Homo sapiens: one gene and its partners. The protein of the gene in region 2 interacts with the protein of the main gene of each other region in a biochemical or structural test. Each region holds a gene or a part of one and is shown on either strand. Other genes may lie near its edges.

Region 1 (6,653 bases), on a different chromosome or scaffold from region 2:
GCCCTAAAACAGCAGGGCTGGTCCACATATTCTCTGAAGACCCTTTCAAGGCTGATTCTTGTTTTCTTTGTTTTTTGTTTGTTTGTTTTTAGATGGAGTCTCCCTCTGTTGCCCAGGCTAGAGTGCAGTGGCTCAATCTCAGCTCACGGCAACCTCCACCTCCCAGGTTCAAGCTATTCTCCTGCCTCAGCCTTCCAAGTAGCTGGGACTACAGGCGCCTGCCACCACGCCCGGCTAATTTTTGTATTTTCAGTAGATGCGGGGTTTCGCCCTGTTCACCAGGCTGGCGTCAAACTCCTGACCTCAGGTCATCAACCCACCTTGGCCTCCTGAAGAGCTGGGATTACAGGCATGAGCCACCATGCCTGGTCTCAAGGCAGATTCTAAAAGACAGCCCTGACTTATTTTTCTAGAGACAAGCCAAACAGCATTTGTGGATTTATTTATTTATTTACGCATAAGCTTTTTTGTATCTTCAAATAGAAAAAGACATTTTACTCCTCCATCTTCTGAGGTATGGCCAAGCACTCTCCTTTGAGTGGGAGTGTGCTGTTGGGAGTGTCTCCTCATTTTTCTTGCACAAACCATTCCCATAAGGCAGGCATTTATTTTTAAGCAAACATTTATTGCATGCCAGATGGTGTTCATACATTATCTCATTTAACTCCCTCAACAGCCATGTGACTCAGGCATTCATATTAGTAATAATAGTTCATGTTTGCCTAGCACTCACAACTTGCCAAGCACTGGGCTGACAGCTTTACATGCGCCATCTCATCTAGTCTTCACAACCACCCTCAAAAGAACCATTATTTCATGGCTTGCACCTGTAATTTCCAGCACTTTGGGAGGCCGAGGTGGAAGGAACACTTGAACCCATGAGTTCAAGACCTGCCTGGGCAACAGAGCAAGAGCCCATCTCCACAAAAAGAAAACAAACAAACAAACAAAAAAACATTATTTCCCCTACATACCAGATGAGAAAGTTGAGGCACAGACAGGTTGAGATCCTAAAGCCAGTGAGTAGTAGAGAGGAGATTTCAGACATCCATGGGTTAACTCCAGAGTTGCTGCTCTTTTTGTAGGTTTTTTTTTTTTTTTAATTTATTTATTTTTGAGACAGAGTCTCACTCTGTCATCCGGGCTGCAGTGCAGTGACACAATCTTGGCTCACTGCAACATCTGCCTCCTGGGTTCAAGTGATTCTCGTGCTGCAGCCTCCTGAGTAGCTGGGATTACAGGCACATGCCGCCGTGCCCAGTTAATTTTGCTATTTTTAGTAGAGACAGGGTTTTGCCATGTTGCCCAGGCTGGTGGTCTCAAACTCCTGGCCTCAAGCAGTCCTCCCGCCTCAGCCTCCCAAAGTGCTGGGATTACAGGTGTGAGCCACCACTCCTGGCCCAAGTTGCTGCTCTTAACTGTGAAGTTCTCCTGCCTCCCACAGTTTATTATTATCCCCGTTTCCCCGGTAGGGAAACTGAGGCCTCAGAAATGAAGCCCCTTGCTCAGGATCAGCAACTGTGATGCAACAGAGGCTCAGAGCCCTGCCGCTGGGTAATGGCAGCAGCTTCCCCAGCTGGTGGTGCAGGTTGGCAGATCTATTGAGTCCCAGGGGCCCTGGCTGGAGGAGGTGTGCAGCCTCGCCTTCAGAGCCTGTTTTCCTTAACCAAGTGCCTCCCACTGCCCCCTGCCTGGGGGGGTCTGCGGAACCATCCTCAGCTACATTGTGCAGGACCTGATGGAGACTGACCTGTACAAGTTGCTGAAAAGCCAGCAGCTGAGCAATGACCATATCTGCTACTTCCTCTACCAGATCCTGCGGGGCCTCAAGTACATCCACTCCGCCAACGTGCTCCACCGAGATCTAAAGCCCTCCAACCTGCTCATCAACACCACCTGCGACCTTAAGGTCAGAGGGTTGGGCACCTGTCCCCTCCTCCCCCAGGGTCTGGGGCTTCCAGTGACCAGTAGAAGAAGCCTTGGGCAGGAGAACATTGCAAGCAAAGGGAACAGTGGAGGCAAAGACAAGGGGGCGTGACTGCTTAGGCTGCAGAGGCCTTGAGCGCCGAGCTTAGCAGCTAGGTCTGATTCCAGATTTGTGATTTCGGCCTGGCCCGGATTGCCGATCCTGAGCATGACCACACCGGCTTCCTGACGGAGTATGTGGCTACGCGCTGGTACCGGGCCCCAGAGATCATGCTGAACTCCAAGGTAGGAGGGGCTGCCCACTCCTGAAAGGAACGGACCAGTTCCCAGGAAGCCCTGGAGCTACCTCTGAGCCAGACACTGACCCCCATGACACAGGAATTCTACCCTCTGGGCCTTGGGCTCTGCAAGGAAGCTGAGCATTGAGCCCTCCAGGCCTCTGCCTTCTGCCTGGTGTTGGATCTAACTTGGAGGTGGTGGCCTGGCGCAGACAACAGGACCCTGTTGAGGCTGGCCCAGGAGCTCACCACTTCCTCCTCTCCCCCAGGGCTATACCAAGTCCATCGACATCTGGTCTGTGGGCTGCATTCTGGCTGAGATGCTCTCTAACCGGCCCATCTTCCCTGGCAAGCACTACCTGGATCAGCTCAACCACATTCTGGGTGAGGGAGGCCCGGCTGGCTGAGTTGGGGATGATTAGCTTTTCCGAGGTGAGATTTCTCGAGAGTCCAAGTCAGGGATACCACCACGTGTGGGGTGCCTCCAGCATCTCATGGTATCTCAATGAGGTATAGATATTATCCCCATTGGATAGATGGGAAAAGCAAGGCTAAGTCCCACACCTGAGGAGGCACCAGACCTAGGATTTGAGCCTCGGTCTGCCTGAACCCAGCCCCCTTGCTCTGCACCACCATGCTAATGACTAGGAGGTGACTGAGGGATTGGCATGGGTTGCTGGGCTGGGGGGTCTTGTTCTTGCCTTGTTGCCTATTCTGTTCCCAGAAAGAAAGAGGTGATCATTTACCAAGTCACCTCCTTATCCACAGGCATCCTGGGCTCCCCATCCCAGGAGGACCTGAATTGTATCATCAACATGAAGGCCCGAAACTACCTACAGTCTCTGCCCTCCAAGACCAAGGTGGCTTGGGCCAAGCTTTTCCCCAAGTCAGACTCCAAAGGTTCGAGAGACATGAGGGTGGGTGTGGGATAAACCTTGGGTGTCGTGGAGGGTGTGTGAGCCCAGCAGCCGCTGGAGGAGACAGGCAAAGCAATGCTTCTCGGAGCTCCTCCAGTCTTCCCTGTGACCCCTGACTCCTGCCCTTCCATAGCCCTTGACCTGCTGGACCGGATGTTAACCTTTAACCCCAATAAACGGATCACAGTGGAGGAAGCGCTGGCTCACCCCTACCTGGAGCAGTACTATGACCCGACGGATGAGGTGGGCCAGTCCCCAGCAGCAGTGGGGCTGGGGGCAGGGGAGCAGGGGGGCACGTAGGCATCCCCCATGCCAGGCCTGAGCCTTGCTGTCTCTACCACCCCAGCCAGTGGCCGAGGAGCCCTTCACCTTCGCCATGGAGCTGGATGACCTACCTAAGGAGCGGCTGAAGGAGCTCATCTTCCAGGAGACAGCACGCTTCCAGCCCGGAGTGCTGGAGGCCCCCTAGCCCAGACAGACATCTCTGCACCCTGGGGCCTGGTGAGTGTCTCCATGGCCCACACATGGACACCCTGATACTAAATATCTATATCTGTATATCTATATCTATATCTATCTGTACATGCCTCCATACAGCAGCAAGCTTACCCCACACCCATGGTCAATGTGTCTGGTGACAACAGAAGTGCCCAGGGGGCTGGGTGTGGTGGCTCATGCCTGGAATCCCAGCACTTTGGGAGACTGAGACTGAGAGGAGTGGATCACCTGAGGGTCAGGAGTTTGAGACCAGCCTGGCCTGCATGGTGAAATCCCATCTATACTAAAAATACAAAAATTAGCCGGGCACAGTGGGTCACTCTGGTAATCCCAGCACTTTGGGAGGCTGAGGCAAGTGGATCACCTGAGGTCAGGAGTCCGAGACCAGCCTGCCTGGCCAACGTGGTGAAACCCTGTCTCTACTAAAAATACAAAAATTAGCCGGGCACGTAGGCATGCGCTTCTAGTCCCAGCTACTCAGGAGGCTGTGGTGGGAGGACTGCTTGAACCTGGGAGGCGGAGGTTGCACCACTGTACTCCAGCCTGGGCAACAGTGAGACTCTCTCAAAAAAAAAAAAAAAAGGGCTGGGCACAGTGGCTCATGCCTGTAATCCCAGCACTTTGGGAGGCCGAGGTGGGTGGATCACAAGGTCAAGAGTTGAGACCAGCCTGGCCAACATGGTGAAACCCGGTCTCTACTGTAAAGAATACAAAAATGAGCTGGGTGTGGTGGCACATGCCTATAATCCCAGCTACTCAGGAGGCTGAGGCAGGAGAATTGCTTGAACCCAGGAGGCAGAGGTTGCAGTGAGCCGAGATCGCACCACTGCACTCCAGCCTGGACTACAGAGCAAGACTCCATCTCAAAAAAAAAAAAAAAAATGCCCAAGGCTGCCCAGACTGGTGGCCCACCGAGTCCTCCAGCCCCAAATGTCTCTGCCTGTCAACACCTTGCATCCTCCAGCCCCACAAGCCATTCTAATCTCCTTCTAGGAACAGAACTGGCAAAGAGGCAAGAGGTCACTGAGGGCCTCTGTCACCCAGGTGAGGACCTGAGCCAAGCTTCAGCTCTGGGTGTGGCAGAAGCAGGTGGGGCCATGATTGCTTTGGGAGGGGCCCAGCAGCGCCCAGCCTGACCCAGATTGCCAGGCCTCCTCACACCTGCTGCCAGATCAGCAGTTCACATAGCTGTGGGGACCCCACTGGCCTGCCCCCACCCACGCTGCCTCCTTGCCTCCTCCGGTCTCTTCCTGTCTTCAGCCAGGTGTGGCCTGATAGAAAGAAGGCATGCGCACCTGGGCTCAAACTCCAGCTGTGCCACTTAGTAAGTGCTGTGTGATATTGGGCAAGGCACCTCACCTCTCGGCGCCTCAGTTTCCGGAGTCAATCTATTTATCTTTTTTTTTGGTTTTGTTTTTTTGAGACAGTGTCTCGCTCTGTCACCCAGGCTGGAATGCAGTGGTGCAATCATAGCTCACTGCAGCCTCAAAACTCCTGGGTGCAAGGGATCCTCCCAGCTAGCTGGACGAGCCATTGCAACCGGCTAATTTTTTTTTTTTTTTTTTGTGGAGCTGGGGTCTTGCTATGTTGCCCAGGCCAGTCTCAAACTCCTGGGCTCAAGCGATCCACCACCTCAGCTTCTCAAAGTGCTGGGATTATAGGCGTGAGCCACTGTGCCCGGCCGAGACAGTTCTAATAATGAAAGCATAAAGCCCTAAGCATTGTTCTAAGAGGTTTACATGTATTAATTCCTTTAATCTTACAGCAGTACCTCAAGCTAGGTACTATTATTATCTCCATTTACAGATAAGGAAACTGAGACCCAGCCTATCCAGCTGTGAGGGTGAAATGAGAGATGTTGAGGTCAGGGCTCCAGTGGGTCTGCCCGGGGGGTGCTAACGACTCCTCTTCTGCCTGCTTCTCTCTTTAGGACCTGCCTCCTGCCTGCCCCTCTCCCGCCAGACTGTTAGAAAATGGACACTGTGCCCAGCCCGGACCTTGGCAGCCCAGGCCGGGGTGGAGCATGGGCCTGGCCACCTCTCTCCTTTGCTGAGGCCTCCAGCTTCAGGCAGGCCAAGGCCTTCTCCTCCCCACCCGCCCTCCCCACGGGGCCTCGGGACCTCAGGTGGCCCCAGTTCAATCTCCCGCTGCTGCTGCTGCGCCCTTACCTTCCCCAGCGTCCCAGTCTCTGGCAGTTCTGGAATGGAAGGGTTCTGGCTGCCCCAACCTGCTGAAGGGCAGAGGTGGAGGGTGGGGGGCGCTGAGTAGGGACTCAGGGCCATGCCTGCCCCCCTCATCTCATTCAAACCCCACCCTAGTTTCCCTGAAGGAACATTCCTTAGTCTCAAGGGCTAGCATCCCTGAGGAGCCAGGCCGGGCCGAATCCCCTCCCTGTCAAAGCTGTCACTTCGCGTGCCCTCGCTGCTTCTGTGTGTGGTGAGCAGAAGTGGAGCTGGGGGGCGTGGAGAGCCCGGCGCCCCTGCCACCTCCCTGACCCGTCTAATATATAAATATAGAGATGTGTCTATGGCTGACCCTGGCTCTGTCTGTGTTCGCGACGCCCCCGCCCTGCCCCGTGCGGCTCTGAGGACAGACTTGACTTGGGCTTTCAGGGGCCTGGTGCCCTTCACTCCCAGCTGCCCAGGGCTGGGGACGGGGCTCTGGAGAGCTCCAGACTCCTAGAAAGAAGGGGGTCAGTTTTCCCCTTAGTCACTGTCCTGTCCTCTCGCTAATGGCTTCCTGTCTAACTGGCTGGGGGTGATTCGGGGTGACTCAGGAGCACCCTACACACCCCTGGATCCTCTGAAATGGCAAGGGGTAGGCATGTTGGATGCGCTGGCTACAAGTACCAGTGAGAGGGAGAGGTCCTGACAGTCCTGGGTGGTTTTTACTCCCCTCATGTAGCCCAGGACGGGGCTGCTGGGGGCTGGGAAGGGCCTGGGGATATGAGAGCCAGGGCTACTTGCCTCACCTCCTGACACTACCCCAGCTTCAGCCGAACCCTGCAGCCTGGCTCCAAGCCAGCCCAGCGGCA
Region 2 (7,398 bases):
TATAAAGCGAGAAATGGCTAGGATGTTTTGAGAGCATAAGAGGAGACATCCAGTTTGCATTCGGTCACGGAAGGTTTCCTGGAAGAGGTAATGCTTGAGCTGAAACTTAAAGAGTAAACATAAGCTAGCCTGATAAAACATAAGAGTAGAAGGACATTCAAGCCAAAAGGGACAGCATGAGCAAAGGCATAGAATCTAGAAACGGCACAGGCACCAGCATGATGTGTTTGAAGAAACAAAGTAGCTCAGAGTTGTTAGAGCATCAAATGTGAGGCAGGGAATGGTAGACAAAGCTAGGAGACATATTTGAGCACTTGAATTTTCTCTTGGAGGCTTTGGGATACCGTTAAAAGTTATTAAGCTGAGGAATTACATGGCCGATTTGGGTTTAGATCAGTCACATTGGCAATAAGGGGAAAATACAATTGACAGGGACAAGACTGAAGGTAAGAGACAAGTTAGGCTGTCATTAATCTCAGCGAAACAAAAGGCAATCTAAACTAGGCAGTTGTGAGGATAGAGAGGAGAGGTAGATTTGTAGAATATTCAGAAGGTAAAATTAGCATAACATGGATTAGTGTAGTAAGGGATAGGGAGGGTCAAAGATGATTCCCAGGTTTTTGCCTTGGGTGAATGCTCATACTGCCACCTGAAATTGATAATTCAGGAGGATAATTCAGGAAGTGTATCCAAAGGAATATAAAAAATTCCAGATGGAAATGCTGAGTTTGAAGTACCTGTGAAATGAAGGTCAAAACGTCAACATACAGTTGGATACTAAAGGCTGAAGTTCTGAGGAAAGATCTGGACCAAAGATGAAAATCTGGGAGTCATTAGCCTGTGGGTGTTAGTTGAAACCAGGACTATATGAGGCTAGAAGGGAGTTACCCAGGGAAGGAGTCTATCATTAAATGAGTTGTGGGCTGAGGGCAGACACTATCAGAGAAGTGAGAGGAGAATCCAGATGGTATCTTCAGGTCTTTTGTGCTTGCTAAATTGAGTGGAGCCCATTCTATTCTCTGTTCTGGGCAGACCCCCACTTACCAGTATAGCCTTGTCTTCAGCTTTGCTAATGTTAGAAAAATTAGGTAAACATATTAAGAAAAAGTAGGCTGGGCGTGGTGGCTCACGCCTCTAATCCCAGCACTTTGGGAGGCCAAGGTGGGCGGATCACGAGGTCAGGAGATCGAGACCATCCTGGCTAATATGGTGAAACCCCATCTCTACTAAAAAAAAAAAAAATACAAAAAATTAGCCGGGCATGGTGGCGGGCACCTGTAGTTCCAGCTACTTGAGAGGCTGAGGCAGGAGAATGGCGTGAACCCAGGCAATGGAGCTTGCAGTGAGCCGAGATTGCGCCACTGCACTCCAGTCTGGGTGACAGAGCGAGACTGTCTCAAAAAAAAAAAAAAAAAAAAACCGGCTGGGTGTAGTGGCTCACGCCTGTAATCCTAGCACTTTGGGAGGCCAAGGCAGGTTGATCACCTGGGGTCAGGAGTTCGAGACCAGCCTGGCCAACATGGCAAAACCCCGTCTCTACTAAAAATACAAAAATTATCCGGGCATGGTGGTGCACGCCTGTAATCCCAGCTACTCAGGAGACTGAGGAAGGAGAATCGCTTGAACCTGGGAGGTGGAAGTTGCAGTGAACCCAGATTGCGCCACTGCACTCCAGCCTGTGCGACGGGAGCGAGATTCCATCTCAATAAAAATAAAAAATAAAAAAAATAACCACATACTTTTCTTTTGAGGAGAGGGGGACTGCCCTTGGCCCCAACTACTCTCTCAAAGACCTCATTCTCTGCTTTCAGTATGTGGAGAACAACAAGAATGCTGACAACGATTGGTTCCGACTGGAGTCCAACAAGGAAGGAACTCGGTAGGTAGACCCTCTTGGGAGGTGTGGGGTGGGAGTCTTATATGAGTTAGGCAATTTGGTATCCTAGCGCCCACTACCAAAGCTGCCCTGTCACATGTTAGCTGTCTCCACTCCCACAGCGCCAGAGTTCCCCAGTTCCCATCCTATGAGTCTCCCAGGCTGGTGGCCTAAGCCAAGATATCATTTGAGTACTGGAAGAATAGGCAAATTGGACTGAGGTTTGGTCTTTGTTACAGGTGGTTTGGAAAATGCTGGTATATCCATGACCTCCTGAAATATGAGTTTGACATCGAGTTTGACGTGAGTGTGATAGAGTGGGAAATATGAAGGTTAGTAGAAGGGGAGGGATTAGATGATGGGTAACAAGCTATCCTTTCTTGAAGGGACCAAAGAAAACTTTAAAAATGGGAGAGAAAAGCTGAGGTTTGAGGCAAGCATAAGTTATATTTACTCATCTCCACATCCAGAATCCTGGTATGGATGTGCTCCTTGGGGAGTTTTACTTAACATTTCAGTTTAACCAAGAAATATGTATGTCTGATTATATTAGTTCCTTTCTATCCTGATTCTGTTTTATTAAGGTTTTATAATTTCTCCAGATTCCTATCACATATCCTACTACTGCCCCAGAAATTGCAGTTCCTGAGCTGGATGGAAAGACAGCAAAGATGTACAGGTAGGACTGAATAGGAGATGGCAAAGAGTCAAAGAAAGCCTTAAGGAAGAACTTCGTGGCGGGAGGGAGAGCATCAGGAAGAATAGCTAATGGATGCTTGGCTTGATGTCTGGGTGATGGGATGATCTATGTGTAAATCACCATGGCACGTTTACCTATGTAACAAACCTATACATCCTGCATGTGTACCTCTGAACTTAAAAGATGTAAGGAAAAAAAAAAAAAGGAAGAACTTTGGAGGCAGAGATTTTCCCAGGGTCTGCTGGCCTAGTGGGGTGCCAGGCCCTCCTTTGCTGAGCCTAAGCAAAGTACTTAGCTGAACTTGTTCTCAATTCTGATCACTAGTAGTCTTCCTATGCCCCCAAGAGGCTGCTGTGCTTTATGGTAAACTTTGCATGTCAACACCTTCTTCATGTCCCTCTCATAGGGGTGGCAAAATATGCCTGACGGATCATTTCAAACCTTTGTGGGCCAGGAATGTGCCCAAATTTGGACTAGCTCATCTCATGGCTCTGGGGGTAAGTTTTGTGTATTTGGCATAAAAGGAGAAAGAGGGACTTAGGCCCTGAGCAGTACAAGAAAAGCAGCTAAGAATAAAAGGAATAACAGTGATGTCCCTTAAGCATGTTCCCCCAGAATCTGTCTCCAGGAAGGAGCTTCTAATGGAACAAGAAGCATTGACTGGTAGTAATCTCACAGGATTTTCCTTGTATTGCAGCTGGGTCCATGGCTGGCAGTGGAAATCCCTGATCTGATTCAGAAGGGCGTCATCCAACACAAAGAGAAATGCAACCAATGAAGAATCAAGCCACTGAGGCAGGGCAGAGGGACCTTTGATAGGCTACGATACTATTTTCCTGTGCATCACACTTAACTCATCTAACTGCTTCCCCGGACACCCTCCACCTCTAGTTGTTACTAAGTAGCTGCAGTAGGCATTGCTGGGGAAGAAACAAACACACACCAAACAGTACTGCTACTTAGTTTCTAAGGCTGCACAGGGAAGGGAAAGACTGGGCTTTGGACAATCTAGAGGTAATTTATATCCGCCCCCAGGTGGAGCAACATGCGATTCTGGAGGCACGGGGGTAACTGAAAGTGAGTACATATAGTCTTTCTGGTTTCTGGAGATAACCCATCAATAAAAGCTGCTTCCTCTGGTAGCCTGTGGTTCTCATTGGGAGCTGTTAACAGAGGGCAAGTGGGCTGAAACCTGAGGCACATGAACAGCTACGCCGGGTTGGGTTGGGAAAGAGTCGGAAATAGGGGATGCTCTGGTCAGGAGTGGGAATGAAATGTTGACTGTTCCCCCTGCTGCTCAGATCTACCTTTGTCCTTTAGTGGTGAGCCATGCTTTGCCCTACCGTGTTAGCCTGCAAGAAGTGGTTTTGCCGGACCAGCACTTCCCGCCCTCCAGGGATCTTCCCAGCCCTCTGTGAAGTGCTAGATGCTTCTCCACTGGTCTGCGGGCTGGACCCAGGCCTGCAGTTTGCCATACTTGCGCCCCTGCTGTTTGGGAAGGATCTGTGCTGTAAGCCTCGCGGCCATACTACGACTGTCAGATCTCCATCCCTATGGGCTATAGGATGGGGCGACGGCACCCTATACCTCAGGGACTTGCTTTGGAGTCATGGATTAAAGACCTCTCTGGGCAGCGTTGAGAACCAGCGACCCTAAACTTGGCTGCGTTTCCATGGTGTCGATCGCGGAGCCGTGGGGGCGGGCTCACGCAAGCGCCAAGGGACCGGTGGGAGGAGTTCGGGTGTGGATGCGCAGGCGCTTTGAGAGACGGTGAAGCCGGTGGCCGGTGGCCGGGCGGGACCAACAAAGATGGCGGCGGCCCCTGCGGCGGGAGCGATCTGGGCAACGGCTGCGGCTAAAGCTGCAGCCGGGCCCACGGGGGGGCTGCACGGGGGTAGTAGGGGGTGGCCCTGAACTGGGGCCTGGCCCTGGCTGGCCTCTCCCGCCGCCTCACTGGGGGACAGGTACGGGCCGGGGCGTTATGGCATGGCGGGGTGTGGGGGGGCGCAGAGGGAAGACTGCTCCAGACCCGAGAGGACACTCTCCACAAAGGCGCGTGGGGCCCGGCGGGGCCTGGGAGAACTGGGCTGGAGGGACAGCATCCCTGGACCGCGGGGAATACGCCGCCGGATTCCGTAGCCAATCAGCGGTCTCGGCCTTTCTGCCCTCGAGGGGGGCGGACCCGGCTAAAGCCCTGCTGTGGTGGGAGAAGTGCAGAGATTAAGGGTCAAGGAGTTGTTCGTCCTCCATCCCCGACTACTGCTTTCTGAACCTCGACACCATGTCGGAGGTCGGAGGTGGGGGAGGGAATGGATCGTAAGTCACCCATATAGTCTGCTTCATTTGCAGCCCAGAGAGGCAGGGATTCGAGGATGGAGGGCTGTCTTTTGGGCTGTTATTCTTGCATCTACACTACCATTTGGCTAGGGTCTTAAGTGACCCGAGGCACATCCTACTTTACTAGCCGGGTATGGGGTCCCATGTTACGTTAGAGCCGAGATAGGAGTTATCACTGGCTTTTCAGTAAAGATGTGTTCTGCAGGGAGGGGTCGGGAGTATAGAAAGGGTCAAAGCCATGGGCTGCTTATCTTTCATTCATTTGTTTACCCAATAGATACTAAGTATTTACTTTGTACCAAACACGATGCCAGGTACTGGGGATACGATGGCTGATTCGATAGATCTGGTTCCTGCCCTCAGTGCGTATACTGCTCCCCACTTTCGTTGATGTGGTAGTGGTGATGACTGAGCCAACCACCTAATGTGGAAATGAGAGGACAGCAAGATTGTGGGTATGGAATGGGGCAAAGCAATAAGGGAAAATTAGTGTGGCAGGGTTCAGTACAGCAGCCTGGGTTCCCATTTCCCCCCATATTCAAATGCTGACACTCTCTTCTCCTCCCAGGTCCAGCCTGTGGTGTCCACAATGCCCCAGGCCTCTGAGCACCGCCTGGGCCGTACCCGAGAGCCACCTGTTAATATCCAGCCCCGAGTGGGATCCAAGCTACCATTTGCCCCCAGGGCCCGCAGCAAGGAGCGCAGAAACCCAGCCTCTGGGCCAAACCCCATGTTACGACCTCTGCCTCCCCGGCCAGGTCTGCCTGATGAACGGCTCAAGAAACTGGAGCTGGGACGGGGACGGACCTCAGGCCCTCGTCCCAGAGGCCCCCTTCGAGCAGATCATGGGGTTCCCCTGCCTGGCTCACCACCCCCAACAGTGGCTTTGCCTCTCCCATCTCGGACCAACTTAGCCCGTTCCAAGTCTGTGAGCAGTGGGGACTTGCGTCCAATGGGGATTGCCTTGGGAGGGCACCGTGGCACCGGAGAGCTTGGGGCTGCACTGAGCCGCTTGGCCCTCCGGCCTGAGCCACCCACTTTGAGACGTAGCACTTCTCTCCGCCGCCTAGGGGGCTTTCCTGGACCCCCTACCCTGTTCAGCATACGGACAGAGCCCCCTGCTTCCCATGGCTCCTTCCACATGATATCCGCCCGGTCCTCTGAGCCTTTCTACTCTGATGACAAGATGGTGAGGACTTGCCACACACATGGCCTTCATGCCCATGTTCCTCTGTGCTTTCCTGCCATCCTCTGCCTTTTCTGTCCCCCATTTCCCTGAAGTTCCTTTCTCAGCCCTTCATTACAGCAGTTTGGACATGCCTCTCCCTTGCTTAAATACCCTTGAGCCTCCTAGACCCTTTTTTGGGTTGTTGGTGACTCTTCAGCATGGTGTGCCATTTCGGTCCCCAGGGGATTACCCCAACTATTTAGAATTCTTCTTTGGGTCCCCAGGCCCTTCCTTTCCCTTGCTTGCACCTTCTCTACTGGGACTCTGCCTAGGCCTAATTAATCTCTGGAGCTAAAGAGAGGCAGGCACAGAACATCTTAGCAAACGTGGTTGCACATTTTCTGAGCTAAGTAAGCTAGGCTGATTGCAATTGGAGCCAGCAGGAGAAGGGCAAGAAGGGGCCACGGGGGCAGGAGGGGGTTTTGGGGGCAGAAAGGTGGGAGTGGTGAGCAGCTGGGCAACCATGCCGGTGCTGGGGGAGTTGCCCCAGGAGCTGCAACGTCAGCTAGCTGAGCAGAGGAGTAAGTGGGCAACAGGTGGGACAGCCATGGCTGAGTCCGTGGTACATTCAGCTGTGATGGGCTTACTGCTCATGACCAGTGAGGTAGGGAGACTAGAATACCTAGTGAGGGGAATAGGGTAGAGTTTGGGGATGAAACATGCATGGGATGGGGGAGGCAGTGGGCAGCATGCTGTTGAAAGGTTAAAGTGCCAGGTAGGATATATAGGAACTTGCCGATTGTACTCTGACCTTCCAGGCTCATCACACACTCCTTCTGGGCTCTGGTCATGTTGGCCTTCGAAACCTGGGAAACACGGTGAGAGCTATTCTCCTATCTTTCCTCTCTAAAAGGAATGTGAAATGGTGCTGGGGGTGGGGAAAACCCACGAGCTTGGGGAAGGCATGTGGAAGGAGAGCTCTGAAGCTCTTCTAAGGCTTCCTGGGCAGTGGTCTGGAGAGATAACAGCAGTGTCCCTACTGCTCCCCAGTGCTTCCTGAATGCTGTGCTGCAGTGTCTGAGCAGCACTCGACCTCTTCGGGACTTCTGTCTGAGAAGGGACTTCCGGCAAGAGGTGCCTGGAGGAGGCCGAGCCCAAGAGCTCACTGAAGGTGGGGCAACAACTCCTGCTCCCTCTGTTCAAGTCCCTTTTTCCCCAACCACTTGCAGGTCCATCTGCCACTGGTGGTGGCCCCCAACCCTTAAATCTGGCAGTTGTATCTACTTTTCCCAGTGCCTACTTTCCTAAAGGTTATTT
Region 3 (3,708 bases), about 46 Mb from region 2:
AACAATTATCAAATTGAGCTTTATGCATCATTACTCAGAAAGCTTGCCTTCCTTTCTTTGCTACTTCAGGACACAGAGTTGACATTTGCTTACTACAGCTTTAGATCTAGAAGTTTATTCGTGCAACAAATATTTATTGAGTAATTTATACTGTGCCAGGCATGTTTTGATATGTTTCTGTCATATGTTTTGATATGTTCCAACATAAGTTTCTGTCACTTTATATTCAGTATATATTTTCTACAGTGGGTAAATTTAACAAATGGAAAGGAATAGAACACTGATATTTTACAGAATTAAACCCCTTCATTGTAAGGGCTTTGTTTACATATTAAGTGTCAAGTATTTATTCAGGGGATCTTATTTCATTGTATTTTATCTGTTATCTAGGTTGTCCATTTACCGGTTGGACACTGATACTCTGTCAAATTCCTTTCAAAAATGACTCTTTAGTCTGCTGAAATTTAGCACTAGTACTTTAGTGTTCTGATCCTGGAAAATTCAAGGTGAAGCTTTATTTGTGGACCATCTGATTTAATTATTGAGGATTAAAAACCTAAACCTTTGCTCATTCTAAACTCAAGCTTTTAAGCCTCACAGAATTTACAGGGGTTTGCTTTTTGTTTGTTTGTTTTTTCATTTTTTACTGTGCTTATTAAACTCTTGGAATTAGTTATTAAAGGGAGTAAATTCTCATCTTGGGAATTTTGAAAATCTATGGACTTACAACTTTCAGGAGGATTAAATGTCTTAAGTTTTGTACTAGAGCAGAATGAAATCTTTCCTATTCATTGAGTTTTTGCCTGCCATAGAGGAATTTTTTTAAAAATTAAAATGACAGTTTATATTAGTGGCAAAGTGAATAAAGACCTCACTTTCCCACCCCACCCTTCTTCCTTTCTCTTACTTTTCTTTGGATTAAAGGTCAGGTGTAGTACTATGAAGATTCACTCCTGAATAAAGTGATTTCAGAAGCTAAAATTTAACATACCTGGAAATTTTGTGATGTGTTAGCCAAGTGAAGACATTAGTGTGTTCCATCTTTTGCTAATGGTTCATGGTTGATTTCTTCATTGTTTCCCATGAAATTAGCATAGTCAAGTGGTACCCTTGACGCTTGACTGCTGGTCAGTTTGACCCTGTTTTTAACAACTAATGTAGTCATGCCGCTTGATTATTCCATGAAGTCCCAGCAAAATAATAATGAGGAATTAACTAACATTATGTTATCTATCTAATTTGTCTGTGTCCCTAAATGCCCATGCCTAACTTGCTTCTCTAGTTTATTCCTTCTGTGGAGGGATTAAAACGTGGGTGTTGCAAGTTGCCCTAAGCTAAACATAGTTTTCTTACATCTTTTTGGGAAAAAAAATGGAATGGGAAGTATGCAAGATTAAGCAAGAGTGATTTTTTTTTTTTTTTGACAAATCAGGTGGCCTTCCTAAACATACTAAGAATTATGTTCTTTCATGTGTGGAGACACATTTGTTTGCAGCACTTTAAAAAATATATATGGAATAAAAGTTTACATGTTGGCCCTCTAGGGATCTAATTAAGGACATTAAAGTACAATTCTTGAGCTACTAACCATCAGCTCTTCTTAATCAAAGATTGCCATCAGTGTAGAGTGTATCTATTGGCACAACATTCTGGTGTTTTGATAACAGTAGAACTCAATTTCAGTAACTATTAGGAGCATGGTCTGTGCCCTAGCATTAAAAATGTTACTTATTATTATGTGAATATCTTGTATTATTATACAATGCAGTATTCAAATTTGTCCTTGTAGTGCAGAGATGACTGATAATTTCTAAAAGATTCGATCCTTAAAACTTGTTTCCAAGCAGACTTATAAGGAAGCTGATTTTTGAGTCAGAGGCCTTAAACGTGTCATATACAAGTGGCATCATTTTAAGTCCAAAGTGAAACACTTGATTTGAATAAGCTAGTTTATAAACTAAAGCTGTTTTCTTATGTTACAGTATTTCAGCACATTTCATTCCACATAAAAAGAATATTAAGTGTCCCTGGTTGTGGGAGAGTGTTTATTTTTCTCAAAATTATCTAGCATTTTGCTTACAGTGCTTTGAATGTTTGACTTAAAATTATTATTGATGTTGAATTGTAGGGTGCTGATTTAGGTCTTGATTCATACACATTTAAAGGAGGTTGGTAACCCCCTCATGGTAGAGTGAAGGGAGAAAAGGGCCAAGAAGACAAAGTACCACTGATAAAGAAGAGATTGTCAAATAGATGCATTCCTAGTCATGAATTACCCTTTTCCAAACATTTTTAAAGCAATGCCTTTGTGTCAACTCAACCCTTCTTCCCCATTTCTTGTCATAGAATGTAGCATGGCCATAGGTGAAAAAGCTTATCATTAAAGTATGAAACCATGAATTATAAGCATTTTGCCATGATGCCCTTTTATACATATGTTTTTAAAAGTACTAACCAACATATAGGAGTTTAGGAATGGTGAAGATATAATTTGATTAAGTTGTAGGTAAACAGAAAGGATCATCTTAGGCTCAGAATTTCTAATATGATTACATGAGTCTACTTTATAAACTGGTATAGGCTATGTAATTAGCCCGTAAGTTACTTAAAGGACCAGGGGACCTAATTTTTGTCAGTTTTCCAGTCACATTGGTGCCATTCAGGACTCCAGCTGTTTACAGGAAATATGTACTTAGCAGAATAGTATTTTTCCTTGAAAAAAATTTGAATTCAGCCTAAATACAGAATGAATATGAATAGTTTGTGAAAAGGGTTAGAGAACAACAATATTCCTATAGTTTCTGTATTAATGCAGTAGAGACAGAGGTTCCTAACGCAAAAAGAAAACCACAAGTAAAGACCGTCAAATTAGAGCTTTAGAATATGACTTGAAAAAGTAGGGATGGGCAAAACAGCATAAGAAAATATTTTTTCTTAATGCAGATGGACAGTGTTTTCTTGTTTTAAAAATGTTTTGCCTATTTGCCAGCATTTTTTGAAGTAATACACTGCTGCTACCTGGAAGATGTCTAACTTCATTTTCTACAACTCTTATGTGATTTTGCCATTGTCATTAAGATGCATTGATTTTATTTATGAGGTGTATGACTTTAAATATCTAAATGCTGTATTAAGTGACTTGTTTCAAAGGAATAAATGAAGTGAAAACGTTGTTTGAGTATATTTTGGGATCAGGGCAGATATGGCCACTGAACGGCTATTTTACTCAATATACATATTATCAAAAGCTTACCGAATCTTTAACTAAGGTACCAAAATCTGCCAAATATCACCCTTTAGGCGGACTCAATGAATGAGACAGGAGAAACTAAGGTATTTCTCCTTAACGAAAGGTTGAAATTCCCATTCATTGACTAAATTTTTTTCTAAATCCAATCCTACAAGTTGTAATTCAATATTTGTTGCTGACAAGTTGTCAGTGTGGAAAGGCTTAATATTTATTTTCTAATAGACTGCAATCTTTGTGAACTTAGATCTGTTTGAAAACAGCAACATCACTATAGGAGGGTTTATTTCATCTTTGGCAATGTCAACATTTAAACATGTATTTGAAGCAACCCTGTGGCTATTACAATTGGCCAGAGTTCAGGTTCCCTAACTAAACTAAACTATTTAACCCATTCTTTCTCATTGAAAGCTTTAAAATTATGGACGTGGAAGTATAATAATATCTAATCAGTTTGTACA
Region 4 (6,363 bases), on a different chromosome or scaffold from region 2:
GGAAGGAGGCTGAGGTGGGAGGATTGCTTACGGCCAGGAGTTCAAGGCTGCAGTGAGGTATGATCATGCCATAGCAATCCAGGCTGGGTGACAGAGTGAGACCCTGTCTCTTAAAAATAAATAAGTAAATACATACATACTGGACTTGTTTGCTAAATCTTAGCGATAGGGACTGTAAAACTTTTCTTTTTCTTGCTTTTTTTTGAGACGGAATTTTACTCTTGTTGCCCAGGCTGGAGTGCAATGGCATGATCTCGGCTCACTGCAACCTCTACCTCCTGGGTTCAACCAATTCTCCTGCCTCAGCCTCCCGAGTAGCTGCGATTATAGGCATGCACCACTACACTTGGCTAATTTTTGTATTTTTAGTAAAGACAGGGTTTCACCATGTTGGTCAGGCCGGTCTCGAACTCCTGACTTCAGGTGATCCACCTGTCTTGGCCTCCCAAAGTGCTGGGATTACAGGTATGAACCACTGCACCTGGCCAGGAAAACTTTTCTTACAAGATGGTAATTCGGTCGGGTGCAGTGGCTCATGTCTGTAATCCTAGCACGTTGTGAGGCTGAGATGGGAGGATCACTTGAGGCCAGGAGTTTGAGACCAGCCTGGTCAACATAGTGAGACCCCCATCTCTATTAAAAAAAAAAAAGATAGTAACTTAAGGAAATAAAATTAACAAAAGGACTGATTTCTTATGTACTTCTATGCTGACTTAGTGTAACCCAAAATTTAACATGCTATTTAATATGTCAGTGCAACTGCTTTTTAGTTTCTGTTTATTGTTCAGGATAATTTTTTCTCCTGATATTCTTGAAGTAAATTTTTAGCTTTAAACAAATTCTTCTGTCACAGAATGACCTTGGTTTTAAAAAAGGGAATTGACTATACTTGCAAAGTTCATTTTTTTTTTCTAAAAAAGAAAAAGGCAGTATTTACACATCTGAATCCTTAATTTGTACCAGTTCTTCAGCACTGTCTTACTTCCTGGCTGCAGGGCCATTTGTTGCCGTATGGTGTTGTAACTTTAGGTTGGTGCAAAAGTAACTGTGTTTTGCATTGACATGGCACCAGCCTAAGAGCTAGCTCTAACTGGCTGAATGTCTTTTCTGACTTTCAACATCACACCAGCTGTATTAGCAGAGATGACTAAGCATTGGGTAATTTCACTTCATGCTAACCACTATAAATTGGTTCAGTTGATGTGTGTGTGTGTGTGTGTGTGTGTGTGTGTGTGTAGACTCCTATATAATTTCTACAATCCTTGCTTTAAAACCTGCAAAATGTATTTTTTGTTTTGTCTTTTCCTTTTTGAGACAGGGTCTCCTTCTGTCACCCAGGCTGAAGTGTGATCATGGCTCACTGCAGCTTTGACCTCCTGGTCTCAAGCAATCCTCCTGCCTCAGCCTCCCAAGTAGCTGGGACTACAGGCATGCACCATCACGCTCAGCTAATTTTTAAATTTTTGTAGAGATGGAGTCTTGCTATGTTTCCCAGGCTGGTCTTGAACCCCTGGGCTCAAGTGATCCTCCCACCTCAGTCCCCCAAAGTGTTGGGATTATAGGTGTGAGCCACTGTGCCTGGCCAAAACCTGCAAACCATGTTAAATCTATGTTGTGTTCCTTTCGGAAGAGATGTCTAATATTAACTTGTGTTATATAAAATCTAAAACATAGGCTTTCAATATTGTTTTAACAGTATATAACAGAATTGGCAAATGCCCTGTCTTACTGTCATTCGAAGAGAGTTATTCATAGAGACATTAAGCCAGAGAACTTACTTCTTGGATCAGCTGGAGAGCTTAAAATTGCAGATTTTGGGTGGTCAGTACATGCTCCATCTTCCAGGTATGTAACTTTAGAGGTGGAAGTTGTTTGGTTTACCAAAGCCCTGGGAGCTAACCGTGAGCTAAATGTAAAATATTTCAGTGTAGATTTTGTGCTGTAAGAGGGGTAGGTGGCTAACCCAGAAGTACTTTGGAGTAATTTAGGCTTAATAATAAACTAGGGTTTGCAAGAAAGTGTTATTCTGTGGAGATTTGGGGCTATTAGCAGTGTTCTAGGCCTAGGGTTGAAGATGCTTAATGTCCTTAGAGGCTAATGAAGGGATGAATGAGTCAACAGATAGGACACGTATATGACAGAGGTGAAGTGCCCACATGTTGAGTGGGAGGAACTCTTCACCTCTGCTGCTTCCTGGATGAGGAGATGGGGAGATGGTTCAGAGGACAGCACTGACAAAGATCTAGAGCTCAGAGTGCAGGCCATATCAGGGAACTTGAAACACTAAATTAGTTTGGTGGTGCTTTGAGGGCAGTGGTGAGAGATTCTCTTCAGTCTGCCTCTGTCAATAGTAGGGATAGTCCTTTCTTATCCCCTGTCACAGCTGAAGCAGAGATGTCAGTCTCAAAACAATTCAAATCTTAGCTTTCCAAGTGAACTACAATATCTTTACTGTTTTAAATTTGAGTTTAAATAAGCTTTGAAACTTCACATGAAGTGGGGCATTTTAAAACATATATCTACCGATGAAGTTTTGTCAACTTTGGAGGAGGACTCAAATTATAGCCAAATGACTTAAAAATCAAGCTAGTTAAAAAAAAAGTATAGCCTAAAATAGAATATGAGGGAGAAAACCTTTGCTTTTGTTACAGAGCACTTCTAATTGTTCCAGCAATGCACTGAATCTGCTATTGCAGTCTTTTTTTTTTTTTTTTTTTTTAAACTGGTTGTCATTAGTGGGAGCTGTTATCTGGTGAGACAAACCAGAATAAAGACTTACAGGCTTCATGGAATCGCAGAGTTAAACTGTATCTTAACCGGTTGAATTGTGATAGAAAAGATGGCTTCTTGCTTTTTGAAAAGATTACTTACATAACCGATAGTCACTTCACTCCAAATCCCAGATGTTAATCATCATCATTTCCTGGTTATTGCCTCAGTTTGAGAACCCCCGATTCAGTCCGTCGGTGCTGATGGAGGGGTTAGATGACCAGAGTGGTAGCTTCTTAATCCTACGTCACAATTCAGTGGTGAGTGACTGTTTGTGTGCTCAGTGGGTGCCAGGCCTGGCTGAACACAGCACCAGGGCTGTGACCACGTAAGCCTCCATGGTGAAGAGCAGCTGATAACAAAGCAACACGAACCCACACAGACTGTTCTGGCTTGCTGTCTGCTGTTCCCAGCTTTTTTCCAACCTTCGTTAAAAAAACCTAAACCGATAAAAATGCGGAATTGGTAGTTGATGGCATACCTGTCTATACAGTGCCTACGTTCAGCAGTTTTTCCCATTTAGTCAGAAGGGCTGCATCTGCTTTTTTAGTGAACACTTGAAAATACGTTGCAAACATCATGATGCTTCAACCTTAAGCACTATAATAGAATGCATTTCCTAAATAAGGATATTCTCCTATATAACTAGAACCATGATCACTCCTAAGAAAATTAACAGCATTGTCAGTATCTAATATTTAGTCCACATTCAGATTTCTCCTATTGTCCATGACATCTTATAGCTGGTTTGTAAAATCAGAACTCAACCAAAGCCCATGCTTTGTATTGGACTGTCTATGTGGTTGGATTGTCTCTGTGGTTGGACTGTCTCTGTGGTTGGACTGTCTCTGTGGTTGGATTGTCTCTGTGGTCTAAAGCCAGACCAGTCTCCCACTTTAAAGAGGACTTTTCTGATTGTGTTGCCACTTAACTTGGACCTTTATTCCCCGTATTTGCTGAAAACTGGAATGTAGGTCTCAGGTCCTGAAGAGATTCAGGTTAAGAAAATTTTTTTTTTTTTTTGAGACAGAGTCTCGCTCTGTCACCCAGGCTGGAGTGCAGTGGTGCGATCTTGGCTCACTACAAGCTCGCCTCCCGGGTTCACGCCATTCTTCTGCCTCAGCCTCCTGAGTAGCTAGGACTACAGGCGCACACCACCACACCCGGCTAATTTTTTGTATTTTTAGTAGATACGGCGTTTCACCATGTTAGCCAGGATGGTCTCGATCTCCTGACCTCGTGATCCGCCTCCCTCGGCCTCCCAAAGTGCTGGCATTACAGGCATGAGCCACTGCACCCAGCCAGGTTAAATATTTTTGGCAAGAGTACTTCATAGGCCACCCTCAAAATTTCAGCATCACTCGTACCAAGTATCTATCACAAGGCAGCATGTGTCTACATCTCCACCCCAGTGCTGTTACAGTGGGACAGTTTCTAGTGTATTGTCATTGCGACCAGGCTTTTAAGATTCTTAGCATATCTGTAATATCCACATGCAGATGTAGAATCCAAATCGTATTTACAGAGAACTTTGCATGGCAGCTTTTATATGGTAGTGATACATTCAGTTTCTTACATTCTAGATTATTCAGGGAGGTTCTGGAGTTGGACAGATTTGGGGTTAAGCCTGATGGCTAGCTGTGTGACCTTACACACCTCGCTTCATCTGTTTCCTATGGGAATTTATAATAGTAGCTACTTCCTAGGGCACAGGATCTGGCCCAGGGGAAGACCTCAGTGTTAGTGGACTCTTTAATGATTGTTAGCAGCTGTTGTGATCATAAAACGAGAAGCACATCAACCTGAGCCTCCCTCCGTTTTCAGGAGGACCACTCTCTGTGGCACCCTGGACTACCTGCCCCCTGAAATGATTGAAGGTCGGATGCATGATGAGAAGGTGGATCTCTGGAGCCTTGGAGTTCTTTGCTATGAATTTTTAGTTGGGAAGCCTCCTTTTGAGGCAAACACATACCAAGAGACCTACAAAAGAATATCACGGGTAAGACGCAACTGAAAAGGACCCAGCACATCTGCTGGAATTCTTTCCTTATCAGCCTGAACTGCAGGCCAAGATCCGAACATCTATACTATTTGATCTCTCTAACCTGTGTTTTGTGATATTTTATCATTTGTTGTACTCCAGGTTGAATTCACATTCCCTGACTTTGTAACAGAGGGAGCCAGGGACCTCATTTCAAGACTGTTGAAGCATAATCCCAGCCAGAGGCCAATGCTCAGAGAAGTACTTGAACACCCCTGGATCACAGCAAATTCATCAAAACCATCAAATTGCCAAAACAAAGAATCAGCTAGCAAACAGTCTTAGGAATCGTGCAGGGGGAGAAATCCTTGAGCCAGGGCTGCCATATAACCTGACAGGAACATGCTACTGAAGTTTATTTTACCATTGACTGCTGCCCTCAATCTAGAACGCTACACAAGAAATATTTGTTTTACTCAGCAGGTGTGCCTTAACCTCCCTATTCAGAAAGCTCCACATCAATAAACATGACACTCTGAAGTGAAAGTAGCCACGAGAATTGTGCTACTTATACTGGTTCATAATCTGGAGGCAAGGTTCGACTGCAGCCGCCCCGTCAGCCTGTGCTAGGCATGGTGTCTTCACAGGAGGCAAATCCAGAGCCTGGCTGTGGGGAAAGTGACCACTCTGCCCTGACCCCGATCAGTTAAGGAGCTGTGCAATAACCTTCCTAGTACCTGAGTGAGTGTGTAACTTATTGGGTTGGCGAAGCCTGGTAAAGCTGTTGGAATGAGTATGTGATTCTTTTTAAGTATGAAAATAAAGATATATGTACAGACTTGTATTTTTTCTCTGGTGGCATTCCTTTAGGAATGCTGTGTGTCTGTCCGGCACCCCGGTAGGCCTGATTGGGTTTCTAGTCCTCCTTAACCACTTATCTCCCATATGAGAGTGTGAAAAATAGGAACACGTGCTCTACCTCCATTTAGGGATTTGCTTGGGATACAGAAGAGGCCATGTGTCTCAGAGCTGTTAAGGGCTTATTTTTTTAAAACATTGGAGTCATAGCATGTGTGTAAACTTTAAATATGCAAATAAATAAGTATCTATGTCTGTGTGGAGTGCTGTGTAATTCTTTCCACCATCTGTTCATTGTTGGCCTGGAAATGAGCAGGGGCTGAGAGGAGCAGGTCTCGCCCTCATCTAGTCCTGCCTCTTCTGGTCTCTCCTGTTGGGTGTACTCCTAATACTTCATTATATATATTGTTTATATATTTGTCATATCTTTGTCATCTGTCCATCGACTAAAGATACGGTGAAAGTGACTGTGATGAAGGAAAAGTAGAAGTGTTGAACTTAGAGCTAGTAGAGAAATCTGCTTGCATGGCCAATGCTCAGTGCAAGAAACTGGACAGCAGGTATGTCAGGATATGTCATAACAAAGTGGCCAATATAGAGAAACTTAAAAACATGACTCAGTAAAACTGCAGCTGCCAGCCCCCTTGGGACAAAGGGGCTTCTGGTTCTCATAGTCTTGAGCTGAACTGACTTTGACCTTCCCAAATAGTTCATGTGCCACCCTCCCAAGCTATAGTTATTATCACGTGACTGAC

Evidence for each region.
Region 1: of the proteins of USP21 (region 2) and MAPK3, one has a biochemical effect on the other in vitro, tested with the Homo sapiens proteins (one study listed by BioGRID).
Region 3: the proteins of USP21 (region 2) and YOD1 form a complex in vitro, tested with the Homo sapiens proteins (2 studies listed by BioGRID, with this or other methods).
Region 4: the proteins of USP21 (region 2) and AURKA form a complex in vitro, tested with the Homo sapiens proteins (2 studies listed by BioGRID, with this or other methods).

Annotation. Positions count from the first base shown.
Region 1 is NC_000016.10:30,113,605-30,120,257, reverse strand, and holds the end of MAPK3 (mitogen-activated protein kinase 3), read left to right. Parts: intron 1-1,719; coding exon 1,720-1,909; intron 1,910-2,094; coding exon 2,095-2,211; intron 2,212-2,473; coding exon 2,474-2,588; intron 2,589-2,972; coding exon 2,973-3,104; intron 3,105-3,254; coding exon 3,255-3,364; coding exon of another isoform or gene 3,365-3,421; intron 3,422-3,467; coding exon 3,468-3,590; 3' UTR 3,591-3,622; intron 3,623-4,612; exon of another isoform or gene 4,613-4,663; intron 4,664-5,549; 3' UTR 5,550-6,153; downstream 6,154-6,653.
Region 2 is NC_000001.11:161,155,139-161,162,536, forward strand, and holds the start of USP21 (ubiquitin carboxyl-terminal hydrolase 21), read left to right. Parts: upstream 1-4,361; 5' UTR 4,362-4,540; exon of another isoform or gene 4,541-4,562; coding exon of another isoform or gene 4,563-4,628; exon of another isoform or gene 4,629-5,227; 5' UTR 5,228-5,368; exon of another isoform or gene 5,369-5,481; coding exon of another isoform or gene 5,482-5,502; coding exon 5,503-6,102; intron 6,103-6,899; coding exon 6,900-6,959; intron 6,960-7,131; coding exon 7,132-7,252; intron 7,253-7,398. Other genes in the region: UFC1 (ubiquitin-fold modifier-conjugating enzyme 1), read left to right, coding at 1,812-1,879, 2,116-2,179, 2,479-2,555, 2,983-3,073, 3,274-3,354. UniProt on the Homo sapiens protein: Deubiquitinates histone H2A, a specific tag for epigenetic transcriptional repression, thereby acting as a coactivator.
Region 3 is NC_000001.11:207,043,312-207,047,019, reverse strand, and holds the end of YOD1 (ubiquitin thioesterase OTU1), read left to right. Parts: 3' UTR 1-3,171; downstream 3,172-3,708. UniProt on the Homo sapiens protein: Hydrolase that can remove conjugated ubiquitin from proteins and participates in endoplasmic reticulum-associated degradation (ERAD) for misfolded lumenal proteins.
Region 4 is NC_000020.11:56,368,890-56,375,252, reverse strand, and holds the end of AURKA (aurora kinase A), read left to right. Parts: intron 1-1,696; coding exon 1,697-1,845; intron 1,846-4,593; coding exon 4,594-4,768; intron 4,769-4,912; coding exon 4,913-5,095; 3' UTR 5,096-5,863; downstream 5,864-6,363. UniProt on the Homo sapiens protein: Mitotic serine/threonine kinase that contributes to the regulation of cell cycle progression.